2 separate regions of the Homo sapiens genome follow, and region 2 is reported to be linked to region 1. Evidence: microRNA targets listed by miRTarBase, many of them from high-throughput screens and not tested one by one. Region 1 holds a microRNA gene; the other region holds the end of a gene's coding sequence.

Region 1 (3,526 bases):
GGAGGATTCAAGGAAGGCTGGAGGGATGTGTAAGTTAGGAGCTCCCAGCACATTTCTTGAAGCCCAGGTTCTGAGCCTGGGGTGGCCAGGCTTGGCCTCTCAGATGAACAGGGGAGACCTTTTCCATCAAATACAAGCTTTAAGCTTCACACCATCTTGCCTGCCTTTCCGCCTTCCTGCTGGACAATGGAGACCAGCAGCTCGGATGCATGTGACTCTGGCAGAGGGAGCCTGGTCTGGGAAGCATCCGAGAATGGCTTCAGCACACTCCCCCTAATGGAATCAGAGACTGGGCAAAACAGAGGATGTGGAGAACGGGGCAGCCTCAGCCTGCTCCCACCAGGGTCAACATCTCCCGGCCCTCACCGACCCTTTTTCCAGATTCACAACAAACTGATGTGGGCTCTAGGACAGACCCCTTTACACACACACACACACACTCACACTCTTTTGCACACATCCACAGCTGCACCCATGCTATGTACAGGAACACACATACACATACTCTCTTCCACATACATCAAGACCATTTTTAAAAGGTTCCAAATCTACCCCTAAACCCTCCCTCTCCCAGAAATGACAACAGAGACGGCAGCCGAGATCGGTAGGAAACGTCTCGTTGACAGCTCAGAGCTTAAAAAAAAATATATACACATATATAAAAAACACTTCTGCCCCCTCCCCCATGAACGGGTCCAGGCAGCTCCTTCCTGCAGGGGGCAGGGGAGAGGGCCACCAGGGCAGTGCCTGTTTTCTTGAAGGCACCGACCCTCCTCCTCCCCATGTTCCCTGCCTCCAGTTCCAATGCAGGGGTCCAGGTGGCAGGCCCCTCTGGGAAGGAATGGGTCTTCCCCAAGCTTCCACCCCACCTTGGATTGGGCCGCAGGTGTGGAGGGCCTCATCAAACTCTTTGGGACCCCCCACCCCCACTCTCCGGTCCATTGTCCATGCCGGAACCGCAAGTGCAGAAGTGGGTGGGGTGGGCCAGGCTGGTCCGGTGCTGGCTTAGTCTGATAGTTGCTGTCCCTGGAGGAGGACCCCCAAGGGCTGATGTCTCTGAGGCTGCAGAGTCCTGGCCTGGGCTCCTCCAGCCCCCTACCCCCACCGTATTTTTTTTTTTTTTTAAAGAAAGAAAGAAAGTGGGGGAGGCCAGGGGGGCAAGGGACAGAACATGGGGGAGAAACAAAGGTGGTCAGTTGGGGAGGGGAGCTCCTGGGCTCTCCCTGGCTGCCCTGGGGTGGGGCTGAGCCTCAGTTGGAGTCAGAGTCTGAGGAGTCCCCTGAGGAGGAGGAGCTGGAGCTGCTGCCCTCGGACTCATTATCTTCATCCTCATCGTCATCCTCGTCGTCGTCTTCGTCCTCGTCATCCTCTTCATTCTGGGGGGTGAGAAAGGATGTGGAGTCACCAGGTGGCCCTCCTGGCAGGACTCCCCTCCCCTCCCACTGTGCCCTGTCTGCCCCACCTCATCCCCATCCTCGCTCTCGTCCTCGCTGCTGGACTCAGAGGAGTCGCCGCCATCTTCAGAGGAGTCCCCATTCTCATCATCTTCCTCTTCTTCATCCTCGTCCTCGTCATCCTCATCCTCTTCATCATCCTCCTCGGACTCCTTGGAGGGATGGAGGCACATCAGTGGTCTCTGGTCTCTGCCCAACCATTCCAGGCAGTGCCCCCCGCCCCACGCCCCTGCATCTGGGAGGGGCTCCTTACCGACTTGGACTGCAGAGTAGTCCGGCTGGATTTGGGGTTTGGGCCTCGCAGCTTGGTCATGCTCTTACGTTTCTGCAGGATGGGGACACAAAGGTGGCAGCCATGAGTTCGACACCCCTGAATTCCCCCACCCCTACCCCACTGCTGCTCTGCTCCCAGACTCACATTGGAGATGTACTCTTTATATGCTGCACGGTCCTGGGGAGACAGGCTCTGGGGGAGACAGAAGCGGCAAGGGTTGGAACATAGCCAACTACTGCTGACTGAGCATGCTGGCCCAGTGCTAGGCAGTGGGCTGAGCATTTATATATCATCACCCCATCTTACCCCTCCCAGGCTCCCTAGATTTTGGGTCTCTGCAGAGAGCCCCTGGGATCTGAGAACACAGCTCTAATTTTTTTTTTTTTTTTTTTTTTTTTTTTGAAACAGGGTCTTGCTCTGTCACCCAGGCTGGAGTGCAGTGGCACAATCTCAGCTCACTGCAGCCTTGACCTTCCCAGGCTCAAGTGATCCTTCCAACTCAGCCTCCAGAGTAGCTGGGACTACAGGCATGTGCCACCACACCATGCTACCTTATAATTTTTTGTAGAGACAGCAATCTCACTATGTTGCCCAGGATGGTCTTGAACTCCTGGCCTCAAGTGATCCTTCATACCTTGGGCTCCCAAAGTGCTAGGATTACAGGCGTGAGCCACTGCGCTGGCCCAAACCCTAGTATTTCTGCTTCTGATACCCAGAGTCCTTCTCTAAACCACTAAGACTATTGGTTTTCACATTTTCCCTGTTGCTTTTCGCAAATGGAAGCTCCTATCAGAGTCTTCCTCACTCCAAAGAAGTGCCCCCGTGATGAGTCAGCCTGGCATCATCAACCACACCCCAACACCAAACCCTTGAGCCATCGATGAGGCAGTGGGGCTCACCAAACTCCTGAAACAGCAAATCCCCACAGTCTTCCTGGGTCCTTGGCCAACCTGCCTTGGTGAGTGGGAAGGACACAGGTGATTCTCTCCACTTTACAGATCTGACTACTCAACCAAAGCACAGAGGGGAAGCACAAAGGCCAGGAGTCTAGGAGAGGTCCCGTGGTCCCAGATGGGGGAGGAAAAGGCAGTCTGATTTGGATTCTTCTACTTACTGTGTGACCTTGGGCAAGTTACTTAACCTCTCTGAGCCTTGGTTTCCTTATTTTTAAAAGGGTGATAGTGGCTGCGGACGGTGGCTCAAGCCTGTAGTCCCAGTGCTTTGGGAGGCCGAGGTGGGCGGATCACATGAGGTCAGGAGTTCGAGACCAGCCTGCCCATCTCTACTAAAAATACAAAAATTAGCCAGGTGTGGTGGTACATGTCTGTAGCCCCAGCTACTCTGGAGGCTGTGGAAGGAGAATCGCTTGAACCTGGGAGGTGGAGGTTGCAGTGAGCCGAGACTACACCACTGTACTCCAGCCTGGGCAGGAGAGCAAGACTGTCTCAAAAAATAAAAAAAAAAATAAAAATAAAAGGGTGATAGTGACCGTTATCCTGAAGGATTGCGAGGGCATGGAATGAAATCATGAATGAGACCAGCCAGCACAAGTGGGTGGATGGGCCAGGCTAGGATGGTGCTGGCTTAGTCTGATGCCTCTCTGTTCCTTCCAAGGGTCCCTTGCCCTCTCACCTTAACCCAGAGGTCCAGGTGCACCTTGTACTGCTTTTGCTGCTCCTCGGCCAGCTTTTTGTAGTGCTCCTTCTGGCTCTGGGAGATGCGCTGCCAGCGACTGCCGATCTCCACCATGCGCTCCTTCAGCGGCAGGTGGTTCAGCTCCCCATTGGACAGCAGCTCC
Region 2 (3,000 bases), not on the chromosome of region 1:
CCCAGAGACCAGCTCCAGGTGGCACTGTCAGCCAATGGGGACTGGCTCCACTTGCTCTCCAGAGGGTTTTTCACCAGCTACCCATGTCAAGACTGTTTTGTGAATTCAAGTCTACTTCCTAAAAAAAAGGTCCTTTTGGATGGATTTGGCTAGTGTGCTATACTACTTTATTGTATAGAAAAACCTCTGCAAACTCTCACACAAGATTTAGCTTTCACCTGGCTGTTTTTGTAGGCAACAAAATAACAGTAAATGGACCCCAAAGTGATTTTCCAGATACAAAGTGACATCACATCGGCAGTAGTTCAGAAGAAGCCCTGGGTACTGGGGGATTTCATGGGTGGAAGAGACAAAGTCTAATTATCTTTTCCTCTGGCTCTCAGCAAAAAACAAGTGCAGATGTAAACAGGAAAAGAAAACCAATGTGAAGTAGAAAAACATACCTTTTGCATTGGCATTTACCTTAAAAATAACAAAAACACCAATTTTACTTAAGATGGTAGTTCTTTAACATTTCTTATAAGCCAGATGTTTTTCATTCAATTTCGGACATTGCCAACACACTTTTACAACTGATTCAAGTTATCTTCAGGCTTGGCTTTAGTTTGAATGTTCCCTTTCAAGCTCCTCAATACTCCTCTGTTCTTTACTTTTACCCCAATGTACTCCAATAATCACGCAATTTATTTATTACAGGCAATCATATACCAATCCTTCCTTGCCTTTAAATAGAGAAGCATCAAGTCATACCACTTTTGTTAAATAATAACCAAAGTTTTTTTCAATATTGTCTTAAAAGTAGCATCTTATAATGCATACAAACATTTTTCTAAAGATAAAAGCTTTACTAAACCCATATCCCTGATAATAAAAGTCAGCCAGAAATCTCCTAAAATTACTCCCAAATATATCCAAGTGTGCAAGTACAAGGTTAATATTATTTTGATGAATTCTGTATTCATTCAACTGCTAAATCACAGGATACAAGACCTGGGTTGAACTTTTTCTTAAATAGTTTACATGGGCAGTCCCTGGTTTGCTGGGCAGTTTCCTGTCTCATCAAATCCCTGGCAAGCTGGGAGGGAGGGAGGAGATGCTGAGCAGCCTCTATGGTCCTTCTTGAACCAAGCTGCTCCCTGCTGGATATGACAATGGCTCAGAAGCAGACTAGCAATTCTCAAAGGACAGGGAGAAAAATCACCACAGTTGCTGGCAGAAAACAGCCAGTGTACTATTTATTTCCTCAAGTGCTTCCATGGGGGAAAAAATAAAAGTCTAATATGCCAGAGAAATCATCATTGAACCAATAAGACACAGTAACATAATTCTAGTAACCTACTTCTCAATGAACACACATCTGAGAAAAAAACCGCCAGTATTTTATTCTCATGGAAAAACAGAACAAACCCACAAGTTGGAGTCACGGAGATAAAATACAGATGAAATGGAAAACGGTCTGTTGTCATGAACTCTCACTTTCAAATACCATTTTATATGGAAGTTACTTTACTGCGGGGCAAACAGAAGGCCATGCTGGAGTCTCTTACTTTTGGAAAATGGAGAATCAAAAATTTGCTAATCAACAAACAAAAAAGGAGGGAAACTCCTTGGTAAAGCTCTACAAACATAATTATACATTTATATTTTACCAATAAAAGATAGCTAGGGTAGAAAAAACAGATGGTTAGAAACTGGTGCCAAACCAAAGTGAAAGCTTTGGTGCCTTCTCTAAACTCCTATCCTGTTTCTTTAGAAAACACCAGTTTTCTAAAGAAAGATTACTCTGAATTCACCAGGGTTCTATCACCCCAATTCATCCCTACCTTTCCACCCCCAAGACACGAAAGGGCCATGTAGTTTTTTGTCCGGCACCACTTGGGAAGGGGCTGGGCTCAGGGGCTGGGAAGAGCTACCTGCTGCCCTAGCTTGAAAGGGAGGAGGTGGCCACACCATTCTTTGTATTTTTATCACGCACATAAAAGAACAAAAATCATTTGGCAGTTTTAAGTTTAATAGGTGCAAACCTTTACTTCAGGAATTAAACCCCTTATGATAAATAAAAGAATTAAATCAGATTTTTTTTTAATACAGATAGGGGTCTCGCTATGTTGCCCAGGCTGGTCTTGAACTCTTGGCCTCAAGCGATCTTCCCACCTTGGCCTCCCAAAGTGCCAGGATTACAGGCCTGAGCCACCACACCTAGCCCTAAATCAGAATTTTTTAAAAAAAATTTACTTAAAAGAAAAATGGAAAAATAAAACTTTCAACACTAGACTGCCGCCCTGTTAAGAATGTCTAATATGCAATCAAAGTATTGGAAAGCAGGCATTTTTACCAAAGAGCAATGTCACTATAACTTATGAACAGAAAGTTGTGAAATATAAGGGTACTCATGGAAACCAGTGAAGAGAGGAAACACCGGCAATTGTTCAACACGGAACAGTGAGCAGGTACTTTGGGAGTAAGGCTCTGAGAGATGGAAGACGCTGGTCTCAGATCTGAGGTGATGTCTGGCCAATCGTCTTGGCTCCAAGGGGGAAGAATGCAACTGGCAGGATTCGAGGAGAGGGCACTTCTGCAGCCCCCAAGCAAGTCTCTAGTTTTCGCCCCAAAGTGGATGCACTTTCTAACTTCAGCAAGGCCTCCTCAGGAGGATTTGCTTTCCGATGTGTAGTAGCGGTACAGGAAACCTAAGAGAACAGCGCCTATGATGGGTAAAATCCAATATGCCCAGCAACTAGGAATAGGGGGAGAAAGCAATAAAGTTGTTAATATTTTAAGCCAAATGTTCACTATCTTTCAGCTTTCACATGTTTTTATATAGGCAAGGAGTTTTTATTTACTTTGGGAAATTTAACTGCTTTTATCACAAAGTAGTTGGGGAAAAATATTTGAATTGGAGTGACAATATTACAAAGTAATTTTTTAAAAGGTTAAAAACAACCAATAGTATGATATCAAATAAGATGTCTTTAAATGCCTCTATATGTGTTTCTACAA

Evidence for each region. The annotated mature microRNA hsa-miR-6782-5p reads UAGGGGUGGGGGAAUUCAGGGGUGU and lies in region 1 at 1,819-1,843, opposite strand. An mRNA with a match to its seed (bases 2 to 7 or 8) in the 3' UTR can be bound and repressed. Matches are read on the target gene's strand: a 7mer-m8 pairs with bases 2 to 8, a 7mer-A1 pairs with bases 2 to 7 and ends in A, and an 8mer does both.
Region 2: miRTarBase lists CYB5B as a target of hsa-miR-6782-5p. Seed matches in the 3' UTR shown: 7mer-A1 at 2,093-2,099.

The regions. Positions count from the first base shown.
Region 1 is chr17:44,205,992-44,209,517 of GRCh38, forward strand. MIR6782 (microRNA 6782) reads right to left here and starts at 1,848; the gene lies at 1,780-1,848. UBTF (upstream binding transcription factor) reads right to left here. Exons shown (of 21, transcript NM_014233.4): 17 at 3,361-3,526; 18 at 1,873-1,920; 19 at 1,708-1,779; 20 at 1,463-1,606; 21 at 1-1,376. The coding sequence ends at 1,251. The region is part of intron 1 of ATXN7L3-AS1 (ATXN7L3 antisense RNA 1); the gene reads left to right. RefSeq lists enhancers at 972-1,472, 2,114-3,313.
Region 2 is chr16:69,462,167-69,465,166 of GRCh38, reverse strand. CYB5B (cytochrome b5 type B) reads right to left here. Exons shown (of 5, transcript NM_030579.3): 5 at 1-2,737. The coding sequence ends at 2,647. Among named protein-coding and RNA genes, the nearest start is that of CYB5B, 39 kb to the right of the region's middle.